7 linked regions of the Homo sapiens genome follow. The protein of the gene in region 7 purifies or fractionates together with the protein of the main gene of each other region. This does not show direct contact. Each region holds a gene or a part of one and is shown on either strand. Other genes may lie near its edges.

What was found.
Region 1: the proteins of RNGTT (region 7) and PPP4R2 purify together in Homo sapiens (affinity purification with mass spectrometry; 2 studies listed by BioGRID and IntAct, with this or other methods). This does not show direct contact.
Region 2: the proteins of RNGTT (region 7) and PPP4R3B purify together in Homo sapiens (affinity purification with mass spectrometry; one large-scale study listed by BioGRID and IntAct). This does not show direct contact.
Region 3: the proteins of RNGTT (region 7) and POF1B purify together in Homo sapiens (affinity purification with mass spectrometry, with the first as the bait; one large-scale study listed by BioGRID). This does not show direct contact.
Region 4: the proteins of RNGTT (region 7) and RPAP2 purify together in Homo sapiens (affinity purification with mass spectrometry, with the first as the bait; 2 studies listed by BioGRID). This does not show direct contact.
Region 5: the proteins of RNGTT (region 7) and CLUH purify together in Homo sapiens (affinity purification with mass spectrometry, with the first as the bait; one large-scale study listed by BioGRID). This does not show direct contact.
Region 6: the proteins of RNGTT (region 7) and SUPT5H purify together in Homo sapiens (affinity purification with mass spectrometry; 3 studies listed by BioGRID and IntAct, with this or other methods). This does not show direct contact.

Annotation. Positions count from the first base shown.
Region 1 is NC_000003.12:73,003,311-73,006,810, forward strand, and holds part of PPP4R2 (serine/threonine-protein phosphatase 4 regulatory subunit 2), read left to right. Parts: intron 1-3,500. UniProt on the Homo sapiens protein: Regulatory subunit of serine/threonine-protein phosphatase 4 (PP4). May regulate the activity of PPP4C at centrosomal microtubule organizing centers.
Region 2 is NC_000002.12:55,611,123-55,614,622, reverse strand, and holds part of PPP4R3B (serine/threonine-protein phosphatase 4 regulatory subunit 3B), read left to right. Parts: intron 1-3,500. UniProt on the Homo sapiens protein: Regulatory subunit of serine/threonine-protein phosphatase 4 (PP4). May regulate the activity of PPP4C at centrosomal microtubule organizing centers.
Region 3 is NC_000023.11:85,310,166-85,313,665, reverse strand, and holds part of POF1B (protein POF1B), read left to right. Parts: intron 1-3,500. UniProt on the Homo sapiens protein: Plays a key role in the organization of epithelial monolayers by regulating the actin cytoskeleton. May be involved in ovary development.
Region 4 is NC_000001.11:92,302,059-92,305,558, forward strand, and holds part of RPAP2 (putative RNA polymerase II subunit B1 CTD phosphatase RPAP2), read left to right. Parts: intron 1-1,918; coding exon 1,919-2,017; intron 2,018-2,225; coding exon 2,226-2,291; intron 2,292-3,500.
Region 5 is NC_000017.11:2,698,265-2,701,764, forward strand, and holds part of CLUH (clustered mitochondria protein homolog), read right to left. Parts: intron 3,474-3,500; coding exon 3,349-3,473; intron 3,257-3,348; coding exon 3,102-3,256; intron 3,002-3,101; coding exon 2,876-3,001; intron 2,562-2,875; coding exon 2,414-2,561; intron 2,211-2,413; coding exon 2,118-2,210; intron 327-2,117; coding exon 1-326. UniProt on the Homo sapiens protein: mRNA-binding protein involved in proper cytoplasmic distribution of mitochondria.
Region 6 is NC_000019.10:39,459,082-39,462,581, forward strand, and holds part of SUPT5H (transcription elongation factor SPT5), read left to right. Parts: intron 1-102; coding exon 103-168; intron 169-477; coding exon 478-508; intron 509-810; coding exon 811-879; intron 880-3,500. UniProt on the Homo sapiens protein: Component of the DRB sensitivity-inducing factor complex (DSIF complex), which regulates mRNA processing and transcription elongation by RNA polymerase II.
Region 7 is NC_000006.12:88,610,619-88,614,118, reverse strand, and holds part of RNGTT (mRNA-capping enzyme), read left to right. Parts: intron 1-1,236; coding exon 1,237-1,400; 3' UTR 1,401-3,500.

The sequences.
Region 1 (3,500 bases), on a different chromosome or scaffold from region 7:
AAGTGATTCTTGTGCCTCAGCCTCCTGAGTAGCTGGGGTTACTGGCACGTGCCACCATTGCCTGGCTAATTTTTGTGTTTTTAGTAGAGACGGGGTTTCGCTGTGTTGAACAGGCTGTTCTCGAACTCCTGGCCTCAAGTGATCCTCCCCCTGCCTTTGCCTCCAAAGGTGCTGGGATTACGGGCATAGTCACTGCCCCGGCTGACTTTCCCTTTTAACTGTCAATCTTAGTTTTACAGTAGGTATATATCTCATGCCTACAACCAGTCCTTATGTCATTGTCATTGTATTCTCTCTGTCTCTCGTCAGTTTGGTTGTCTGAATGAAGCTTATTCTTTAATAGATTATTGAAAAGCGGCTAATTGAAACAATATTTCTGGAGTTTTTTTTTGTTTTGTTTTTTTTTGAGACAGAGTCTTGCTCTGTTGCCCAGGCTGGAGTGCAGTGGTGCGATCTTGACTCACTACAACCTCCACCTCCTGGGTTCAAGCGATTTTTCTGCCACAGCCTCCTGAGTATCTGGGATTACAGGTGCATGCCACCACGCCCGGCTACTTTTTTGTATTTTCAGTTGAGACGGGGTTTCTCTGTGATGGCTGGGCTGGTCTCGAACTCCTGACCTCAGGTGATCTGCCTGTCTTGGCCTCCCAAAGTGCTGGGATTACAGGCGTGAGCCACTGTGCCTGGCCTAACTTTTGTATTTTTAGTAGAGATGGGGTTTCATCGTGTTGGCCAGGTTGGTCTCAATTTCCTGACTTCAAGTGATCTGCCTGTCTCGGCCTCCCAAAGTGTTGGGATTACAGGCATGAGCCACTGCGCCTGGCCTGGAGTTCTTATGTGTATGTCTTGTATGTTGTCTGTGCCTTTTATTCTTTTTTTTTTTTTGCCCCCCTTTTTATTTCCCCTTTTTGTTGAGCATGGGGTCTCGCTATATTGCCCAGGCAGGTCTCAAACTCCTGGGCTCAGGCTATCCTCCCGCCTGTGCCTCCCTAAGAGCTGGAATTATAGGCATGAGCCACCGTGCCTGGCATGTGCCCTTTAATCTTGAAGGTCACTTTGGCTGGAAGTAAAATCTTTGGTTCACATTTTCTATCCTTGAGTGTCTTAAGTTTGTTAATTCTATTGTTTCCCCCCAGTAAAACTGTTAAAATCTATTTATTTTTGAGACAGAGTCTTGCTCTTTTGCCCCGGTTGGAGTGCAGTGATGCAATCTTGGTTCACTGTAAACTCTGTCTTCCCACCTCATCCTTCCCGGTAGCTGGGACTACAGGTATATGCCACCACACCTGGCTAATTTTTGTGTTTTCTGTAGAGATGGGGTTTCACCATGTTTTTAGGCTGGTCTCCTGAGCTTGAACTCCCGAGCTTAAGTGATCTGCCCACTTTGTTGGCCTCTTAAAGTGCAGGGATTACAGAGGTGTCACCATGCCTGGCCAGCTGTTAACATCTGATGATAATTTTTTTTACCTTATAAACTGCCCAATCTTTTTGCCTACCTTCCTAAAAGATTTTTTTCTTTAAAATACAGTGTGGGGTGTGTGTGTGTGTGTGTGTGTGTGTTTGTTTGTTTGTTTGTGTGTGTGTGTTTTGAGTCGGAGTCATGTGTGTGTGTTTGTGTGTTTTGAGTCGGAGTCGTGTGTGTGTGTGTGTGTGTGTGTGTGTGTGTGTGTGTGTGTGTGTTTTGAGTCGGAGTCTTGCTCTGTTGCCCAAGCTGGAGTGCAGTGGCGCCATCTCCGCTAACCGCAATCTCCGCCTCCCAGTAGCTGGCATTACAGGTGCCCACCACTATGCCTGGCTAATTTTTGTATGTTTAGTAGAGACGGGGTTTCACCATATTGGCCAGGCTGGTCTCAAACTCTTGACCTCGTGATCTCCCCGCCTTCGCCTCCCAAAGTGTCAGGATTACAGGTGTGAGCCACTGCGCCCGGCCAAAATACAGTGGTTTTTATAGACTAGATCTTTAAAAGCATTTTGAAAATCAATGTTGGATATTTTGGAGTCATTGTACTCAGGTATATGGTGTGGTCTTTTTTTTTTTTTTTATCCACTTATCTACACACTGGTGGTGTAGTCTTTCAATATGAATTTTTAAATTTTTAAAAAATATTAAATATTTCAAGAAAGTGAATTGTTGTCTTTGGTTTTTTTGTTGGGGAGGGGAGGGAGACTATATTGCTGCATCTTTGCATATCTTCAGTACTTATCATTTTGTCTTGAATTCTTCTTTTGAGTCCTTTTTTAAAAAGCAGTGTTACGGGCCGGGTGCGGTGGCTCACGCCTGTAATCCCAGCAGTTTGGGAGGCTGAGGCCGGCGGATCACCTGAGGTCGGGAGTTCAAGACCAGCCTGACCAACATGGAGAAACCCCATCTCTACTAAAAATACAAAATTTGCTGGGTGCGGTGCATGCTTGTAATCCCAGCTACTCGGGAGAATCACCTGATCCCGGGAGGCAGAGGTTACAGTGAGCCGAGCTCACGTCGTTGCACTCCAGTCTGGGCAACAAGAGTGAAACTCTGTCTGCAAAAAAAAAAAAATCAGTGTTATTGAGGTATAATTGACATACAATACACTGTATTTATTCGAAATGTACAGGTTGCTAAGTTTTCATATCTACACTCAGGAAACCATCACAACAATCAAGATTGTGAACATGTTCATTCATTACTCCCAGAAGTTTGCTCATGCCCCATTGTAATCTTCCCTCCCTGTGTGTGCTGCCTTCCCTCCAAGCAACTTTTTGTCAATGTAGATTAGTTTGTGAGTTCTAGAATTTTATGTAAATGGAACCATACAGTATGTATTCTTTGGCTTCTTCTATTCAACATAGTTTGTATTTCTTTTTATTTCTGAGTAGATGCATCGTATGAATATGCCACAATTTTTTTTTTTTTTTTTTTTTTTTTTTGAGATGGAGTGTCGCCCTGTTGCCCAGGCTGGAATACAGTGGTATGATCTCGGCTCACTGCAACCTCTGCCTCCAGGTTCAAGCTATTCTTCCGTCTCAGCCTCCCTGGTAGCTGGGGCCACAGGCGCGCGCCACCATGCCTGGCTAGTTTTTGTATTTTTAGTAGAGACGGGGTTTTACCACATGGGCCAGGCTGACTCCTGACCTCGTAATCCACCTGCCTCGGCCTCCCAAAGTGCTGGGATTACAGGCGTGAGCCACCACACTTGGCCCAGAGTAGCTTTTCTAACTACATGGAGCACTCTCGTTGGTTTTGTGAAGTGTTTTAAGAACACGGCAGTTTGCATTCTGAAATTCCAGGCTGTGTTCTCCACTTCTGCTTTTTTTTGAACCTTGTCTTCATTTCTCTTGACTCTTTCTCCTCATTGTGGGGCTTACCTCTAGATTGGAGCACTGTTGGGTCACTTTCAAGAGCTCAAGTGAGCAAGACCTGCTTCGTCTTTTCGAACTCAGAGCAGTCTATTCACTCATTGCTAGAGTTGGCAAAATCCATCTCAGTTTCAGCTGCTGTTCTCAAATTGGTCTGCAGTGAT
Region 2 (3,500 bases), on a different chromosome or scaffold from region 7:
ATTCTGAAGTTGATGTGTATTCTTTGTGTACATGCTTTTATACCTTTTCTGCATATGTATGTATCCATAAATAATATGTAGTCTGTTGTGTGTTTTTAAACTTTACACAGTGGATGTCATACTCTTACATGTATTCTGCAGCTTGCATTTTTCACACATTCATTTTGAATATTCGTTCATGTTAACAATGTAGATCTAGTTTTCTTTTTAAACTCTGTATAGTATTCTTATGTATGACATACACTTGTTGTTATACATTTGAATTATTTCCAGGTATTCTTTTTTGTGTGTGGTATGTAAAGTCACGATGGCAGAGATTTTTGAAGGAAGATAAATTATTTTAGGATTACATTTACAGCGTCAGTGCCCACTTCAAGGTTTATGAAAATTTGGATGCCCAGAAACAAGTACTTCGTAGTTGGAGGAATAAAATTCTGTCTGTTGTGCAGCTTATTATTACAAAGTCTTACTGTTAGAACAATTATGTATATAACACATTCTTAATCAGTTATTTGAAATACTTTAAAATTTTCAATATTCAATTCATAGCTTTTTTCTCTGTTTAGAAAATATTGTGTGTCTTTTTTGATGGAGAAGCAAATTAAACATTTGTCCTGAATTGAAAACCTGAAGATGTTTCCTATACCTTAGACATTGTAAGGTAGACATTTAAGTAAATTTAATTTCTCAGTCAGCCAGGCAGCTCTTAATCTCTGTCTTTATACCGAGTTTTTACCAGATGATCACTTTTAGTTTGTTTTTGTTTGCTTGCTTCTTTGTGGGGAAAGAAATACTAATTTTTTTTTTTTTTTTACCATATTTCCCTTATCTGCATGAATATAATTATCAGGAACTTTGTTCTTAAATGTAACTAAGTCATAAACAGTTCCCTACAAATTTAGGTTTAATAATGGATTCTTCTCAGATTGTATATAAGATCTTTTAGCTGTTGTTACTTTGGAAACATCACATTATGGAGTAGGTTTGTATTTAAAATAGTCACCCAACATAAGTTAAAAATACATAGTGATTCTGTGAATACTTTAGAATCATTAGGATATGTAGGTAATTTCATGTATAATGTTGCTCTACTAGAAAATTAGTTCTAGATAATTAGCATTTTTGTATACACTTAGTATAAAGTATTGGAAAAAATGCATTATTTAAAAAAATTACACCATTTGGAAATGTTTTCTGTAATCACATTTAAATAATATACTATTTGGGGTTTTGTAATAGTTTATTTTTTCGTTGGGCTTTTTTTTTTTGGCAACATAACATTCAGGTGTATAAGAGAACTCTGGTAATGAGAAGAATATGGAAACACTGAAGAAGAGTGAAAAACTTGTGTGAATGATGTTACCTGTTTATTTTTGTTTAAATTGAGTACACTTTTCTAATTGAAATCATAGGGCCATTTAGGGGTTATGTTAAACTTAGTTTCTTTGTAATAGACATGGTTTTTCATATTTTCACCCAAATCTTCAATTTGCACTTTTGAAAATAATTTTTTTGAGAGGGTCTTCTTCTGTCCCTTAGGCTGGAGTACAGTGGTTTGATCACAGCTCACTGCAGCCTCAACCTCCTGGGCTCAAGCGATCCTCCAATTTCAGCCTTCTGAGTAGATGGGATTATGGATGTGAGCCACCATGCTTGACTAATTTTTTTTTTTTTTTTGAGATGGAGTCTCGCTCTGTCGTCCATGCTGCAGTGTGGTGGTGCGATTTCTGCTCACTGCAAGCTTCGCCTCCCGGGTTCACACCATTCTCCTGCCTCAGCCTCCCAAGTAGTTGGGACTACAGGCGCCCGCCACCACGCCCAGTTAATTTTTTTGTATTTTTTAGTAGAGATGGGGTTTCACCGTGTTAGCCAGAATGGTCTCGATCTCCTGACCTCGTGATCCGCCCGCCTCGGCCCCCCAAAGTGCTGGGATTACAGGTGTGAGCCACCAAGCCCGGCCAACCTTACTAATTTTTTAAAAAATTTGTAAAGATGGGGTCTCGTTATGTTGTCCAGGCTAAATTTGCACCTTTAAAAAATTTATTACAAAACTTTGTTGTTGTTGTGTTTGTAGAGACGGTCTCACTGTGTGGCCCAGGCTGATTTGAATTCCTGGCCTCAAGTGATCCTTTTGCTTCAGCACCTCCATGGTGCTGGGATTACAGGTGTGAGCAGTGGCTGTATTCAGCTTAATTTGTAGTTATTTGAAGTTACACAAATTGAGATTTCCAAATACAGTAACATTTTTCTATGTTTGTTAGAATTATCCTTTGTAAAAGGCATCATTTAGGTTATTCAATAAATTAGTCTAGAAAGTTATTAATTTCCAAATATCACATGAAGTCTGTTGTTCAGTAGTGGAGTTAAAATTTAAAAAATTGTTTTCAGAGATGGGATCTTGCTATGATGCCCAGGCTGAGCTTGAACTCCTAGGCTCAAGTGATCCTCCCATCTCAGCTTCTCCAGTAGCTGGGACTGCAGTAATGGGTTAAATTTTTTGTTTCCATTAGCGGGTTTTTTATTAAAAACTTAATGAGTAAGTGAATGAGATGTTTATAGGCCATTTTGCTGTATTAAAATATGTTGACTATGGCAGGCATGGTGGCTCACACCTGCAATCTCAGCACTTTGGAAGGCCAAGGCAGGAGGATCCCTTGAGCTGAGGATTTCGGGAACAGCCTGCACAACATAGCAAGATCCCTGTCTCTACCAAAAAAAATTCAAAAATTATCCAGGTGTGGTGGTGCGCAGCTATAGTGCCAGCTACTTCTGGAGGTGAGACGGGAGGATCATTTGAGCTTCGGAGGTCGAGACTGTAGTAAGCCATGATTGTACCACTGCACTCCAGGTGGAGAGACAAAGCGATTTTTCTGTCTCAAAAAAAAAAATTGAGTAAATTCAGAGGGGAATGTTTAACATTCTTCTTTTAACATTATAGTTTTAAAATGAGCCAACTACTAAATTGTGTGCTCAAGATACATCTTTTCTTTCATAAATGAAGTACCAAATTGTGAGCCTAAAAGGAGTTAGAATGAGTCAAGCTGAATGTCATATGACTGGATATTGAAAAGTCATTATTGATTCACATCACTTTCTTCCTTACTGTGCATAGTACTGAAGTCGTTAATGGAAGAAGATGTACTTACCCAATAAACTTAAGCATTTAAACATGTTGGAAAGAGAAGAGAATCATTATATGATACAACATGAAATAACATACCTGATAGGTGTGACAGAAATTTTAAGTTACTTCAAATCAGTCCCACTGATACTGACTAAATCAAAAGCAGAGTCAAAGCCAGGTGTGGTGGCGTGTGCTTGTGGTCCCAGCTCCTTGGGAGGCTGAGGCTGGAGGATCACTTAAGGCCAGGAGTTTGAGGCTGTAGGGTGCTATGATTGTGCCTGTGCGTAGCCATTGCACCCCAGCCTGGGCAACATATCTTAATAAAAAACAAGAGTCATACTAGGCACAGTGGCTCACACTTGTAATCTCAACACTT
Region 3 (3,500 bases), on a different chromosome or scaffold from region 7:
CAAAATCTGGCAGAGACAGAACAAAAAAGGAAAATTTCAGGCCAATATCCCTGATGAACGTCGATGCAAAAATCCTCAATAAAATACAGCAAACTGAATCCAGCAGCATATCAAAAAGCTTATCCACCATGATCAAGTCAGCTTCATCGCTGGAATGCAAGGCTGATTCAACATATGCAAATCAATAAACATAATCCATTACATAAACAGAATCAATGACAAAAACCACATGACTATCTCAATAAAGGCAGAAAAGGCCTTTGATAAAATTCAACACCGCTTCATGCTAAAAACTCTCAATAAACTAGGTATTGATGGGATGTATCTCAAAATAATAAGAGCTATTTACGACAAACCAACAGCCAATATCATACTGAATGGACAAAAGCTGGAAGCATTGTCTTTGAAAACCGGCACAAGACAAGGATGCCCTCTCTCACTACTCCTATTCAACATAGTATTGGAAGTTCTGGCCAGGGCAACAAGGCAAGTGAAAGAAATAAAGGGGATTCAAATAGCAAGAGAGGAAGTCAAATTGTCTCTGTTTGCAGACGACATGATTGTATATTTAGAAAACCCCATCGTCTCAACCCAAAATCTCCTTAAGCTGATAAGCAACTTCAGCAAAGTCTCAAGATACAAAATCAATGTGCAAAAGTCACAAACATTCCTATACATCAATAATAGACAAACAGAGGGCCAAATCTTGAGTGAACTCACATTCACAATTGCTACAAAGAGAATAAAATACCTAGGAATATAACTTATAAGGGATGTGAAGGACTTCTTCAAGGAGAGCTACAAACCACTGTTCAAGGAAATAAGAGAGGACACAAACAAATGGAAAAACATTCCATTGTTATGGATAGGAAGAATCGATATCTTGAAAATGGCCATACAGCTGAAAATAATTTATAGATTCAGTGCTAACCCCATCAAGCTACCATTGACTTTCTTCACAGAATTAGAAAAAATACTTTAAATTACATATGGAACCAAAAAAAGAGCCCATATATCCAAGACAATCCTAAGCCAAAAGAACAAAGCTGGAGGCATCATGCTACCTGACTTCAAACTATACTACAAGGCTTCAGTAACAAAAACAGCATGGTACCGGTACCAAAACAGAGAGATAGACCAATGGAACAGAACAGAGGCCTCAGAAATAATGCCACACATTTACAACTATTGGATCTTTGACAAACCTTACAAAAACAAGCAATGGGGAAAAGATTCCCTGTTTAATAAATAATGCTGGGAAAACTGGCTAGCCATATGCTGAAAACTGAAACTGGACCCCTTCCTTACACTTTATACAAAAATTAACTCAAGATGGATTAAAGACTTAAAGGTAAGACCTAAAACCATAAAAACTCTAGAAGAAAACCTAGGCAATACCATTCAGGACATAGGCATGGGGAAGACTTCATGACTAAAACACCAAAAGCAATAGCAACAAAAGCAAAAATTGACAAATGGGATCTAATTAAACTAAAGAGCTTCTGCACAGCAAAAGAAACTATTATCAGAGTGAACAGGCACCCTACAGAATGGGAGAAAATGTTTGCAATCTATCCATCTGACAAAGGGCTAATACCCAGAATCTACAAAGAATTTAAACAAATTTACAAGAATCAAACAAACAACCCCATCAAAAAGTGGCCAAAGGGTATGAACAGACATTTCTCAAAATAAGACATTAATGCAGCCAACAAACATGAAAAAATGCTCATCATCACTGGTCATTAGAGAAATGCAAATCAAAACCACAATGAGATACCATCTCACGTGAGTTAGAATGGCGATCATCAAAAAGTCAGGAAAAAACAGATGCTGGAGTGGATGTGGAGAAATAGGAACGCTTTTAGATTATTGGTGGGAGTGTAAATTAGTTCAACCAGTGTGGCGCTTCCTCAAGGATCTAGAACTAGAAATACCATTTGACTCAGCAATCCCATTACTGGGTATATACCCAAAGATTATAAATCATTCTACTATAAATACACATGCACACATATGTTTATTGCAGCACTATTCACAATAGCAAAGACTTGGAACCAACCCAAATTGCCCATCAATGATAGACTAGATAATGTGGGACATACGCACCATGGAATACTATGCAGCCATTAAAAAGGATGAGTTCATGTCCTTTGCAGGGACATGGATGAAGCTGGAAACCATCATTCGCAGCAAACTGACACAGAAACAGAAAACCACACACCTCATGTTCTCACTCATAAGTGGGAGTTGAACAGTGAGAACACATGGGAACATCACACACTGGGGCCTGTCAGGGGGTGGGGGGCTAGGGGAGGGATAGCATTAGGAGAAATACCTAATGTAGATAGATGACAGGTTGATGGGTGCAGGAAACCACCATGGCACGTGTATACCTATGTAACAAACCTGCACGTTCTGCACATGTATCCCAGAACTTAAAGTATAATAAAAAAAGAAAACTCTAGAAAAGAAGGAAAACTTATTGTATTTACCATATTTTTGCTTACAATGCTATATCTTCCTTCTTAATATTCCAAATTCTTTCTTTTATGATTTTCTTCTCTTTAGACAACTTCTTTTAGCTATTCTTTAAGGGTAGGTCTGCTAGTAACAAATTATTTTCATTTTCCCTCATCTGAAAATGTGAATTTCCCTCCATTCCTAAAGGATAATTTCACTGCATATAGAATTTACAGTTGACAATTATTTTCTTTTAGTACTTAAAAAATAGTATCCTAGTTCCTTCTGGGCTTCATGATTTGTAATGAGAAATCTGTTGTCATTTGAATTGTTATTCCCAATAATTAATGTTTTTCTTGCTGCTTTGAAAATTTTTAGTTTGTCTTTAGTTTTAAGAAGTTTGACTCTGATTTGTCTGGTAATGGATTTCTTTGGGTTTATATTGTTTGGGATATGCTCAGCTTCTTGAATATGTATGTTACCAGGTTTTACTAATTTGGGAAACTTCTCAGCCATAATTTTTTTGAATATTTTTTCAGCTCCATCCTCTTTCTCCTTTCCTTCCAGGACTCTGAACATGAAAGCTAGATATGTGGTGTACACCCACAAACCCTTAAGCTCTGTTTAATTTTTTCTAATCTATTTGTTTCTGATATTCAGATTATATACTTTATTTTATTCTATCTTTAAGTTCATTAATTCTTTCCTCTGTTCTCTCCATTCTGCTTTTTAGCCCACTCCTTGAGAGCTTTGTTGTTTTGGTTTGGTTTTTGTTTCTTTGTCTTGTTACTGTCCTTTTCAGTTCTAAAATTTCCATTTAGGTATTCTTTATGTCTTCTATTTATTTGCTGAGACTTTCTATTTTGTCATTGAGACAATGTGTTTTTACAGTCTCCTTGCAACTTCTTGTTGAAGTATTTATGATGGTTGTTTTATACACTTTATCAGATAATTCTAACATTTCTATTATCTTGATGTTGTCATCAATTAAGTGTTTTTTCTTATTGGTTGAGATTTTTGTTGTTCTTGGAATTATG
Region 4 (3,500 bases), on a different chromosome or scaffold from region 7:
TCACTTGAGGTCAGGAGTTCGAGACCAGCCTGGCCAACATGGTGAAACCTCGTTTCTACTAAAAATACAAAATTAGCCAGGTGTGGCTCATGCCTGTAATCCCAGCTGCTCAGGAGGCTGAGGCATGAGAATCACTTGAACTCAGGAGGCAGACGTTGCAGTGAGCTGAGATCACACCACTGCACTCCAGTCTGGGCAACAAGAGTGAGACTCTGTCTCAAAATAAGTATATAAATAATAAATGGGAAAAAAGAAAAATGAGGATGGGGGAGAAAAAAAAAAAAAGAAAAAGCAAATATATTTTACCCTTAGTCATAGTTCTTTTAACCAGTCTGCTAATATCACTTGATTTTCTTCAATTTGTTCTAATGATTGCAATTCCAGTTTTCTATATTCTGTGTTGTGTTATTTTAAGTAACAGAAGAATATTATTTTTGTCAATGTAATTTCATCAATTTTCTTATTTCAAAAACCTGAAATACAGCTCATTTATGACTCAACATAAAACGGGAGAATTAAATTCCGCATTAAATTTTTTTTTTTTTTTTTTTTTTTTTTTTTGAGACGGAGCCTCACTCTGTCGCCCAGGCTGGAGTGCAGTGGCGGGATCTCTGCTCACTGCAAGCTCCGCCTCCCGTGTTCACGCCATTCTCCTGCCTCAGCCTCCCGAGTAGCTGGGACTGGGCGCCCACCATTACGCCCGGCTAATTTTTTTGTATTTTTAGTAGAGATGGGATTTCACTGTGTTAGCCAGGATGGTCTCGATTTCCTAACCTCGTGATCCGCCCGCGTCGGCCTCCCAAAGTGCTGGGATTACAGGCATGAGCCACTGCTCTCGGCCCGCATTAATTTTTTTTTGGCCAGGCACGATGGCTCATACCTGTAATCCCAGCACTTTGGGAAGCCAAGGCGGTAGGATCGCTTGAGCCCAGGAGTTTGAGACCAGTCTGGACAACACAGCGAGACCCTGTCTAAATAAAAATTTGAGAATAAAAAAATTTTGAAACAGCTTTACTACATTAAAATTTTGAATGGAAATTTCTCTTTATATTTTTGTAATCCTTAAGAGGGCAAATTAAAACTCAAAGCTTCTATTACAAAAACACTTCTTAGTGTAGTTGATAGATCTTTTTCTAAACAGGAATATGAACATGACAATTCATATTTTTATTGACACAGGTAACTGCATCAGAATCTGCATATTTGATGACACCAGAAAAGACAAAGGCAAATATGCTTCATTTGAAACATAAAACTTACATCACTCTCAATAAAAAGTATTTCTGTCTCTGTGAAAACAGAAAAACTTGTTAAAAGATCTCAAAGTTATGAACAAGAATCAAAATTATTTGATCATGAAGATGTCAAAGGAAAATATTTGATGTTAGCTTATAACCATCACCTCACCACTCTGTACAGATTTTTCAGAAGTAGGAAAATTTTGCACAAACTGTGTTCTGCAGTAACAATGACACTTTTGAAATACTTTGTTTTTAAAGATTATGCTTTAAAAAATAGGTAAAATTATATTTTATTATTTTGTGATTTAGTTAATTTTTTAAATAATACTTTTTCAAAAATAAAAGATACTGTTGTCATTTAGCTTGTGTATAGCTATAGCATCACTTCTTCCTCATGCCTCAGAATTATTTCATTTAACTATATAATCTACAAAGATGCAGAGACTACTGTGGCAGAAATTTTTTTAATAATAACTTTTTTTTTGAATGCTCACTATATGTTGAGCACTTCTCTAAGTGATTTTGCTTTATTTTCTCCTCTAATTCTAACCTCTAACTTATGAGGAAGGTACTATTGCTATCCCTGTGTTTTCAGATAAGATTGATGAGGCTTAGAGAGCTGATAAATGAACTTTTCTATTAAACTAGGAGGAAATAACCCTCTCATTTCATTTTAGGGGAGGTTCATTACACCTGCTCACTACAGTGATGTCGTGGATGAACGTTCTATTGTCAAACTCTGTGGTTATCCTTTATGTCAGAAGAAGCTGGGAATTGTAAGTAACTCATTTTTTTTAAAATATAGGCTTTTATTATTTTCATTTAGCAAAATACTTTGTTGTAAGAATAAGAAATAAAACCTAAGGTCATGAACTAAAGGCATGGATTGGCCAATGATATGATATGTAGATGACTTAATCTTGTAACATAACGTTCATGTTTATTATTTGGATTCTTTTGTAAGCTGTACTTTCTTTTCTTTAGGTACCAAAACAGAAATATAAAATTTCTACCAAAACCAATAAAGTCTATGATATTACTGAAAGAAAGGTGAGTTTAAAGGCTTTCATTGTGGCAATTAATTTTTTTTCTTTACTAACCACTATCCTAACAAGGCATGGCAATTAATTTTTAATGATATTAAATAGGATTCTAAAAGAAACTTTAAAATCTTACTGGTTAGAAAATAGTGATGTTAAAAGTTTGATTTTATTTGTAAATATTTCAATCAAGGTATTAAAAATTTTTTTGCTTAAGCTTCAATTAAGACTTGAACATTTAAAAGTGCATATTGGCACAAATCTGGGCAAATAAATCATGGAACAGAATAGAGAGTCAGCAGCAGACTAACCACATATGTAGACACTTGATATATGACAGCGGGAGTATTGTAGATCAGTAGAGAAAGGATGGATTTTTCAATAAATTATACTGGCACAATTAGTTATGCAAATGGAAAAAATTAAAATTGATGCCTATCTCAGTCTCTATACATAGATCAATTTTAGGTAGATTAAAGACATAAATGTAAAAGGTAGAAGACACTATGGGAGATGCTGGTCGTGGTGGCTCACACCTGTAATCCTAGCACTTTGGGAGGCCAAGGGGGGCGGATTACCTGAGCTCAAGGAGTTGGAGGCCAGCCTGGGCAACGGCAAAACCCTGTCTCTACAAAAAGTACAAAAATCAGCCAAAGGTGGTGGTACGCACCTGTAGTCCCAGCTACTCAGAAAGCTGAGGCACATGCATCGCATGAACCTGGGAGGCAGAGGTTACAGTGAGCCGAGATCATGCCACTGCACTCCAGCCTGGGCAACAGAGCAAGACACTGTCTTCAAAAAAAAGACAATAGACCGGGCGCCCTGGCTCAAGCCTGTAATCCCAGCACTTTGGGAGGCCGAGGCGGGCAGATCACGAGGTCAGGAAATCGAGACCATCCTGGCTAACACAGTGAAATCCCATCTCTACTAAAAATACAAAAAAATTAGCCAAACGTGATGGCGGGCGCCTGTAGTCCCAGCTACTCGGGAGGCTGAGGCAGGAGAATGGCGTGAACCCGGGAGGCGGAGCTTGCAGTGAGCCGAGATCGCACCACTGCATTCCAGCCGGGGCAACAGAGTGAGGCTCCGTCTCAAAAAAAAAAAAAAAAAAAGACAATATGGGAAGATATAAACTTGGGGTAGAGAGACTTCATAAAATAAGATGGAAAATTATAGGCCAAAGAGGAGAAACTGATAAACATTTCTATATTAAAATGTA
Region 5 (3,500 bases), on a different chromosome or scaffold from region 7:
TCCAGGATGCCGGGGATGATGGACTGGGCCGTGACCCGGTAGCCGCGGTAATCCACCACCACCGTGCCCAGCGTGTACAGCCCCTCCACGTCCACCGCGTTGTACGTGCGGACGCCATTCAGGTCGTTGGTGGGCGCCACGTAGGCCGCCACGTCCCCCCCGAAGTCCTTGTAGTGGTCTCGGACGTCGAAGCCCAGGCTGAAGAAGATGTTGTTCCAGATGAACATCTGCATCTTGGTCTCCTCGCTGGGGTTGATGGCCATCACGTTGCCGTCAATGACGGCCATGGCGCCCCTGGTGGCTGCCGCGGTGAAGTCGCTGTGCACCTGGCGGGGGTCGAGGAGGGCAGGGTTAGAGGCCGCGCCCACAAGAGCCTGCATCCACCTGGCCAAGCGCACGCACCTAGACCGCGGAGGCAACCGGGCCTGCCTTGGAAACCCAAGGACCCGGAGCCTCAGTTTCCTCATATGTAGAAAAGGGCAAGAAAACCATGTTTTGGCCGGGCGCGGTGGCTCACACCTGTAATCCCAGCACTTTGAGGGGCCGAGGCGGTCAGACCACTTGAGGTCACGAGTTCGAGACCAGCCTGACCAATATGGTGAAACCCCATCTCTAATAAAAATACAAAAAAAATCAGCCAGGCGAGGTGGCGCGCGCCTGTAGTCCCAGCCACCCGACAGGCTGAGGCAGGAGAATTGCTTGAACCCGGGAGGTGGAGGTTACAGTGAGCCGAAATCACACCACTGCACTCCAGCCTGGGGGACAGAGTGAGACTCCATTTCTAAAAAAGCGCAAACAAACCAAAACCCCCATGTTTTGAGAATACACTTGTGCTGAGGGAGACAGCAGGGCTTAGTGATTAACAAGCGTGCGCAGGTTTGGGATCCACCAGTTATGTGCCAGGTGAACTTGAACAGATAAAGGTATTGACCTTTACAAGTTGTCCAATATATTATAGGAAATAGTCTCTATAACGCACTTGGCACCATCTCTGGTGAAGTCGGTACCCGAGAAATGAGTTTTTGTTTCTACAATTATCATCTCTAGGCAGTATAACTATGGGAGGTTGGTTGTTTTCAGACAGGGTATCACGCTGTTGCCAAGGCTGGAATGCAGCGGCACGAGATCCGAGCTCACTGAAGCCTCGACTTCCCCTGGCTCAGGCCATCCTCCCACTCCAGCCTCCCGAGTAGCTGGGACTACAGGCACATGCCACCATGCCTGGCTAATCTTTTGTATTTTTTGCAGAGACGAGGTTTCACCATGTTTCGTAGGCTGGTTTCCAACTCCTGGGCTCAAGTGATCTGCCTGTCTCAGCCTCCCAAAGTGCTAGGATTACAGGCGTGAGCCACTGTGCCTGGCTGAGATTTCTTTTTTTTTTTTTTGAGACGTAGTCTTGTTCTGTCGCCCAGGCTGGAGTGCAGTGATGCAATTTCGGCTCACTGCAACCTCCGCCTATTGGGTTCAAGCAATTCTCCTGTCTCAGACTCCCGAGTAGCTGGGACTACAGGCATGCGCCACCACACCCAGCTAATTTTTGTATTTTTAGTGGAGATGGGGTTTCCCCATATTGGCCAGGCTGGTCTTGAACTCCTGACCTTGTGATCCGCCCGCCTCGGCCTCCCAAAGTGCTGGGATTACAGGCATGAGCTACTGAAGCCGGCCTGAGATTTTTTTTTTCTTAAGCAACTGCTTTTCCTCATTTCTCTTAGTAACCCAGCACTAATAACTTTTAAACCCCAGCAAACTAAAAGTGTTATGCAAATGAGCACCCGCCCTAGAAGGGCCATGGCCGGCCAGTGCTCGCCCAGGCAAAAGCCCCGCAGCAGTCACAGAGGGCGGGAAGCTGCACGGCCCTGGACACTCAGTCCCTATGGGAAGTAGGGCCCGCTCCTTCCAGGGACTCAAAGCCTCAGAGAGGCCAGAGAAAGGTACTGGGATGGTCTGCTGGGAGGCGGAAGGCTAGCAGACCCTGCGGGAGACGCTGACTGGCCTTCGGGGAACCTGACAGGGTTAGGGCTGCCCCTGCCTCCCTTGCTTTCCTCCTCTCCATGAGAAAACCCGTCAGCAGGTGGACAGCGGGCCTCAGACTGCCGGTCAGCAGAGGCTGCAGGCACCTTGAATATGGCCCTTTCTCGGAGCAGCCGCTCAGGCAGGTTCTTGCGAGGCAGCTCCCTCGTCGTCTGCAGCTCCTCATTCCAGTCTCGGGTCTGCAGAGAGATCAGGGAGGGAAAAACGAGCTCAGCCTGTGCCCTGTGACCTGCTCCCGGAAGTCGCTCCTTCTACCTTCCTGAGAAGAGCCCCAGACTCCCAAATGAAGTCAAGCATGGGGCCTCCAGGGAAGTGCACGGAACCAGCCCAGCACCCAGGAGGGCAGGGGTGCCCAGCGAGGGCAGGGCCAGGTTGCAGGCACCTGTCCAGGAATGTGCTCCTCATAGCCCAGCCTCGAGGTGTAGGCGTCCTCTGCACGCACGCAATCCATGGCATGCTCCGCCTGGGGGGCTGTCCAGCTGTACACCTGGAATGGGGTGGCGATCCTCTCGAACGGGTGGCGCTGGACCCTGTGGCAGGCAGGGGAGGGGGAGATGGGGCAGCCCACCAAGCTCAGAGCCCTTCCACGGGCCCCTTTTCTGAGGCCCCCGCCTGCTCCGGCATCTCCCACCCTGAGACACTGCCCTGGAGCCAGATGGAAGTGCACGGGCGCCTCTCCTGCGGCTGCTGTCTCGGCACTGGCCGACAGCTCCCTAGAGCGGGGACTCCAACACTGGGGGCCCAGGGCGGTTTCTTCAGACAGAAGCACTGGAGTGCAGGTGGGCCGGCTCACCCCATGCCCCCGTGTGCCATGAGACAAGGCGGGAGGGGACAAAGGCACTACCTTTTCTTCTGCAGCACAGCGAAGTTCTTCTTGAAGGTCGGGCTGATCTGGTTGAGCAGCTCCACTAGGGAATGGCTTAGGAAGCGGGGGCTGGCGGGCTTGGGGTTGAAGTGATAAGCTGTGGACCTGCAGGGAGAGGGCGGGCACTGAGCGGGGGCCCAGGTGTCTGCCCAGACCCAGGACGGCTGGCACGGCAGGGGGGTGTGGTGGGCTGGCAGGGACTCACTGATTCAGGTAAAAGCCCCGTGTGGACGCGGTGATGCTGACTTGCCGGTCCTCGGCTGTGATCACAAACAGGTACATGAGGTCCCCGTGCATCTTCCGGTTCCCCGGGGGCGGGTTCCATCCGCTCATGGTGAGTACTTTCAGGCACTGCAAGGGCTTCGGGAGCGGCCGAGTCTGAGGGGCCAGGCCTCTGGTGTGGGGCCTCCACCCCGCCAGGGACCCTCTTCCTCCCTCCCCCAGGATCCTACCTTCCAGTCACGGTTTTGGGGCTGCAGGGGACACAGTGGCCGCTCCCGGCTCCCTGGCAGGATGTACTCGGGTGGTGTGCAGTCGATGGGGTCCATCTCCAAGCCCTTCTTCCGCTTCCCGCTGTCTGAGGGACCCGAGGCTGGTGGTCAGC
Region 6 (3,500 bases), on a different chromosome or scaffold from region 7:
ATGGTGGGGGCAGGTGGGGGCAGGGAGCAGGTGGTCCCTAAGCGGGAAGGGGCGGGGATCTGACAGAGCTTCACCCCTTCCTGACTGCCCTCCTCCCTTCAGGGTGTATGGAGGATCTGATGAGCTCTCAGACGACATCACCCAGCAGCAGCTGCTCCCAGGAGTCAAGTAAGGGGGTTGGGATGGTGGGGGCCGTGCTGGGGTGCGAATCTTGTATGGGGTGATGGTGCCTAGACAGGTGGCTCCCTGAAATAAGTCAGGGCAGAGTCACACAGGCAGTGTGGTGGATGGCAGGGGTAGGGAGGGCAAGGTGGCACTTTCTCTTTCCTCTTGCTCCTGGGTAGAAGCGTGGGGAAGTCAGTGAGTGTGAGGGAACCTGGATGTGAAACCAGAGGAAGGGGGTGGCCCTGGGGGTTCGTCTGTTTGTTACTGAAGATCCAGCTTCACTGAAGGCCTTCCTTTTCCTCTGCTGCTTAGGGATCCCAATCTGTGGACTGTCAAATGTAAGGTATGTGCTCTGATCTCGGGGCTTGGAGGAGGTGGGAGAATGAGGGAGGCTGCTTTGTGGGGGAGAAGTGTCTGTCTGTCCCGGGTCTCCGTGGCCTGCCAGTCACTTGGTCCTTCTGTCTCCATCCCTCACTCCACGTTACTGACTGGCTATCTCCCACCTCCATCTTCCTGGCTGTCCATCCTTCTTTCTCTCTCCTCTCTTGGTCCTACTTTATTTTTCTTGCTGCTGTCTCCTTCCCCCTTTCCTGTGTCCTTTCCTCCATCCTGTCATCTCTCTCAAATCTGCCTCTCATCTTCCAGATTGGGGAGGAACGGGCCACGGCCATTTCCTTGATGCGCAAGTTCATTGCCTACCAGTTCACAGACACGGTAAGTCGGGTAGACAGGCGGCTTGGTGGGGAGACATGGCAACACCCAGAGGGAAGAACATTGTCAACTTCAGGGGTACCAGGTGCCTCTGTTGTGAGCAGAGCTGCCTGCTGAGTGAGCTGCTTGAGCTGGAATAAGACCACTGCCTAGATGGAAGGGCTCTTCTCGGCCTAGATGGATATGTTGTCTTTGTTCTCTGCATTTATGGCAGGGTCTTCCCACCCTTGTAGCCCTTTGGAAGTCAGCCAGCTAGCTTCCTGCACCTTTTCTTCATGAGAGTGGGTTTGCCTGTTCACCAGCCCTGTTGGGCTGGGGTCACCCACTTCACCACATGCCAGGCAGCAAATGCTGCATCCAAGGCCCAGGTCTTTCTTTAGACTGACAGAGTTTGAGTCCTGCCCTTGCCACTTCTTAGCTGTGTGACTCTGATGCACCTACTTCCCCTCTCTGGGCCCCTTGGTTGCCTCTCAGCATCATTAGGATTAAGTGGCTTTTGGCTGGGTGCAGTGGCATTCACCTGTAATACCAGCACTCTGGAAGGCTGAGGCAGGCAGATCACTTGAGGTCAGGAGTTTGAGACCAGCCTGGCCAACGTGGTGAAACCCCGTCTCTACTAAAAATACAAAACTCAGCTGGGCGTGGTGGTGCACACCTGTAGTCCCAGCTACTTGGGAAGCTGAGGCAGAATCACTTGAACCCAGGAGGCAGAAGTTGCGGTGAGCCGAGATCGCATCACTGCACTCCAGTGTGACAAAAAAAAGGATTAGGTGGCTTTATGTCCAGCTCTCAGCTAGGACTTGTTCTGCAGCTTGCATTTACTTAGCAGAGCTGTTGTCAAAGGCTTCATTGGCAGTTTGGGAACCAGGGCAAACGCTATGAAGGGTGCTGGCTGGTAACTTTCTCAGTTAACATGATCCCTGCTAGGGATCATGCTTTCACCTGTCCAGCCACTGGGTGTGACCCAGTGGGACCAAGTAGACAGTTGTAGGGTTTGCAAACTATGCTTTTAAATGTGCTCAAATGTCCTCCTCAAAGGCCGGCCATGGTGGCTCATGCCTGAATCTCCAGCACTTAGGGAGGCTGAGGTGGGTGGATCACGAGGTTAGGAGTTCGAAACCAGCCAGTTTGAGACCAGCCTGGCCAACATGGTGAAACCTTGTCCCTACCAAAAATACAAAAATCAGCTGGGCATGGTGGTGCTTGACTGTAATCCCAGCTACTTGGGAGGCTGAGGCAGGAGAATCACTTGAATCTAGGAGGCAGAGGTTACAGTGAGCCAAGACTGCGCTATTGCACTCCAGCCTGGGCGACAGAGTGAGACTCCGTCTCGGGGTGGGTAGGGGGTGGAATGTCTTCCTCATTATTATAGTAATAAGTGTCCCTGCCTGTCATGGGTGAGATTGGGATTTGTGGGGTATGATTCCCCAACAGGGAGGTTGAAAAGGTACCTTTTGGCTAGGTGTGGTGGCTAATGTCTGTAATACCAGTATTTTGGGAGGCTGAGGCAAAAGGAGTTCGAGGCCAGCCTGGACATCATAGTGACATAGTGACAACTGATTTCTACAAAGAAAATAATAATAGGCCGGGCGCGGTGGCTCACGCCTGTAATCCCAGCACTTTGGGAGACTGAGGCGTGTGGATCACCTGAGGTTAAGAGTTCGAGACCAGCTTCACCAGCATGGTGAAACTCCGTCTCTACCAAAAATACAAAAGATTAGCCAGGGGTGGTGGTGCATGTCTATAATCCCAGCTACTTGGGAGGCTGAGACAGGAGAATTGCTTGAACCCAGGAGTTGGAGGTTGTAGTGAGCCAAGCTCGTGCCACTGCACTCCAGCCTGGGCAACAGAGCGAGACTGTCTCAAAAAAAAAAAAAAAAAAATAATAATAATAATAATTAAAAGAAGTGTGCTCAAATCCTCCTACATGGTACCCTGGGGTAAAATTCTAGTTACTTCATTTGAGTTATGTCTCTGATTATTATTTTTTTTTGAGACGGAGTTTCACTCTTGTTGCCCAGGCTGGAGTGCAATGGTGTGGTCTCGGCTCACTGCAACCTCTGCCTCAGCCTCCCGAGTAGCTGGGATTATAGGCATCCGCCACCATGCCCGGCTGATTTTTTTGTATTTTTAATAGAGACGGGGTTTCACCATGTTGGCCAGCCTGGTCTTGAACTCCTGGCTCAAGTGATCCACCCGCCTTGGCCTCCCAAAGTGCTGGGATGGCAGTTCTGAGCCACTGTGCCCAGCCTAAAATTTAATTTTTTTAAAGTGTAAACTGTGGTGGATTTTATATATTGTAGTGTATTCATAACCATCATCACCATCTAATTCCAGGACATTTTCATTATCCCAAAAATAAACCGATACCCATTAGTCATCACTCCCCATTCCTCCCTCCTCACAGCTCCTGGTAACTATGAATCTACCTTCTTTCTCTGTGGATTTGACTATTGGAACTCTGAATGGTTCATACAAAGGGAATCATACAATATGTCGCCTTTCGTGACTGACTTGCTTCACTTAATGTTTTCAAGACTCATCCATATTGTAGCATATATCAAGACTTCATTTTTTTGTTTGTTTTTTTGAGATGGAGTTTTACTCTTCTTGCCCAGGCTAGA
Region 7 (3,500 bases):
TGTTTGGCTCCAGTTGGCTTGTAGGTTCTACTCTCTAAACTGGTGATCTTGTGCCCATGCACCCAAAAGAGAAGTTTAAAGGGCAGGATACTGGGCTGTATACAAGTTGAATTTATTGAACAACAACAACAACAGAAACCATGATAATTTCAGATCTATTCAAAACTATAAAAACCATTGTTTGCCAGATGGTAAAAGACAAAATTATCAGGGGAAAATGTAATTTCCAGCTCTTAAAATAGCTTTATAAACAATGGAGAACAAAGTAAACGAAAACCATTTAAAAAGACAAAATCTGCTATGCTATTCTTCAGAGTGTTCTTTGGGTACAATATGAATGCTTTGGGAATTCAGAATAGTAAGTTTCTTTCATGGGGAACAACACAAATTAATTGAAGTTTATAAGGTATACCACTACCAGTAGCAGTTGTTGTTCTGGATTGCATTTTTAGTGGAGTTGAAAAAAGGTAAAAACCAAGATAACAGGTTAATCAAACTTTACTTTTAGAATGTGCAGTTGATGAGGAGGATGATGATGATGATATGATAAGCTAATGAGAAAATATTGAAATTGCCAATTTCAGCTTTGCAGTTTAAAAGTTACTGTTGTACATTTAGGAGTTCTCATTGGAACTAGCATCCATGTTCAGACAAGATGAGTTAATTTCAAAAGTCAGGATGATTAAGCCAATGTCTTTTCTTCTAAGACCAAATAGGTAAATAAAATGAAAAGGACTGGCACTAAATTTTGATAAGAGAAGATAATATGGTCTGCTAGCTACAATGAAACCACCTATTCAACAGGAATGGTGGCTGGTGCCATGTTTTATGTTTCGTAGAGTAGACTTCTTTCTGAGAGAAAGATTGAAGGACTATAGTGCACGTTTTCTGTAGAAGTTTTAGTTGAATACAGACTATGGTGCAATGTGTTGTGTTAGATTAAAATCCCATAAAAACTGGTTTGGGAGGGATAGAAAACCGTGGGGAAGACATGCTTATAGCCCAAACATTTAAAGTTTTGGTTTAAAATTAATACTGCAGTAAAGAGTAGCCATTAGACAAGCACATATTTTGGGTGTAGGGTAGGGAGGAGATAGTTCAATGTGAAGCACATCACTCAAATGGGTAAAATGGAAAGTATTTAGTATATTGGGATGAAAACCTTTCTCATAAGCCTGTGGTGAGTCAGCTGCCTTAATTAACCCTCACATGAGACCTGTCTCCCTTTGTCCACAGCTGTGTGTAACAGCATCTCAAACCCTGTCACCAAGGAGATGCTGTTTGAGTTCATCGACAGATGTACTGCAGCTTCTCAAGGACAGAAGCGAAAACATCATCTGGACCCTGACACGGAGCTCATGCCACCACCACCTCCCAAAAGACCACGCCCTTTAACCTAAGACCTGCCTGTGACTTGAGGGTTAAGAAGAAAGAGGAATGAGGAAAAAACGCTGTTGCCCATTTTTGTAGCCAGAGAAATTGAAAAACGACTGTGGCTTGATGTTGATACACATTTGAATTTTTTTTAAAAAAAGAAAGTTATCGTAGCCAGCCTGTAAATACTTGATGCATTCGTTTCCTCAGTGCTGCAATACATCGTGGACTTAAACATCTTATTTATCTGATAAACTCAGCCTTACCTTGTGGAATCTGAAGATTGAAATATCCAAAGGTTTAAACAAGATGGAAATCAATGAAAAAGAGGCCTTGTTTATATATGGGTAGCTTCACATTTAATTTATAAAGTTAACAATCTGGAAACTGTGAGCCCATAAAACAGTATTTTTTAGAAGTTGTGTTACAACTGTAGCAAATTTTCCTTTTAAAAAATCCAGGCAATGGCATTAAACATTCTTGCTATCATTTACCATGGATTTCCTACATTTCTGAGATCCCTGTATTCAAAAACAAATGACAGGGTTGTTAAGTTGTACTATATTAAACAACTTGGTCTGGTTTATATCATTTTAACAAGTTTTTTGGAAATGTAAAAGAAAAAAGTAAAGCTCCATTTTTGTGAATTGCATTGTTTCTAAAGGAAGTATTTTGAGTATTTTCATCTGTTTGTATTGTTTCGACTATGATATCAGATATCCAGTGTGTCCATTCTGGCAGTGGTTTTGAGTTACTTCATGGAACTTGGACATACACCACCAGGTCCTTTATGTGTTGTTCTCCTGGGAGACTTCTTTTTTTAAATGCCAGGGCTACTTCTGCTTTACCTCAGTGGTATCAGCACATTGTAAATTACGTTAAAACACACAACTCACTGTGATCTATGGGAGTGATATCAAATACAAACGATGTTGTGTTCCTTCTCTCGAACAAAACAGCAAAGGGAATGCCAGCTAACTTCTTTGATTAGAAGGTAATGTCATGGAATAGAATGCTGTCACCAGAAAATGCTCTCCCACTGCTAGATAAATGCAGAGGCAAAGTGTAGACATCTGTAGGAACTAAATATCAAGGAAATCAAGACATTTATTTTCAAAGCGAGAATTCTATCTACATTCTATTCTGCGGATGTTATTTCTGTTATACATCTGAATTTTAAAATGTTTACTGATAGATAATGGATTTAAAGGGCGGCTAATTGATTGTCTGCCATTGTTGATAAACTGTTCTAATTGGTTTGTGAAAGAACTCTGAGAATTAGCTAAATGGAGGCTAGTGTATTTATTTTTAGAGGTACATGTTTTAAGTAAATGTATTTAAAACAAATTTTCATGGTCTGAATTGTATATGTAAATGCATATCTGTGTAAGTATATGCAAGTGTATATTCTTCTACTGATTCAGTCAGACACGAAATCCAACTGAATTACCCGGTAGACTGAATATCTGACGGGATTTCTATATGGACATAGCACAGATGAACCAAAAATGTATTTATATTCACCTGAGTTTTAATGTTTTTAAACAAAGTTTTCTCCTGCAGTGCTTTTCTATATGAAATAGTTGAGTCAAGCTTGGGCTTTTTTCTTCGTTGTTCCCAAGTCATGTAATGTATAGTGAATTTATCCAAAACGCCATTGTAACGTTTTTTACTAGAGTGTTTTTGCACATTTGGGCGCTAAAGGGATTAAAACAACTGATGCCACAATGACTATTGAAGGAGGGAAAATTCTCAAGGTTCCATAGTATCTTTTACAAAATGGATTAAAAAAAAAATGCCTATGCAACTTCAAATAGTCTGATGCCTGCTTCCCCAGGACGAGTGACTCTTCCACGGTGTGCTGCTTTCCCTCCGAGCCTGTGGAAAGGCAGAGCCCTTTTGCAGATACGAAAGCAAGCTTTTGCCAATGATCTTTAATGGAGTTAAAATGTTTATGGTAATTGTAACCTTTCAAATGAGTTACGTGAAAAGAGCATCTCACTTTTAATACACCCAGATATTTTCTTCAAGTCTTTGTGCATTTTAGCAGGACTTAATTTTCTTAATTTATTCTTTCCTTTCAATTATAGTGACATAGAGTAGTTGGCCTTATAAGTAGATCCCAT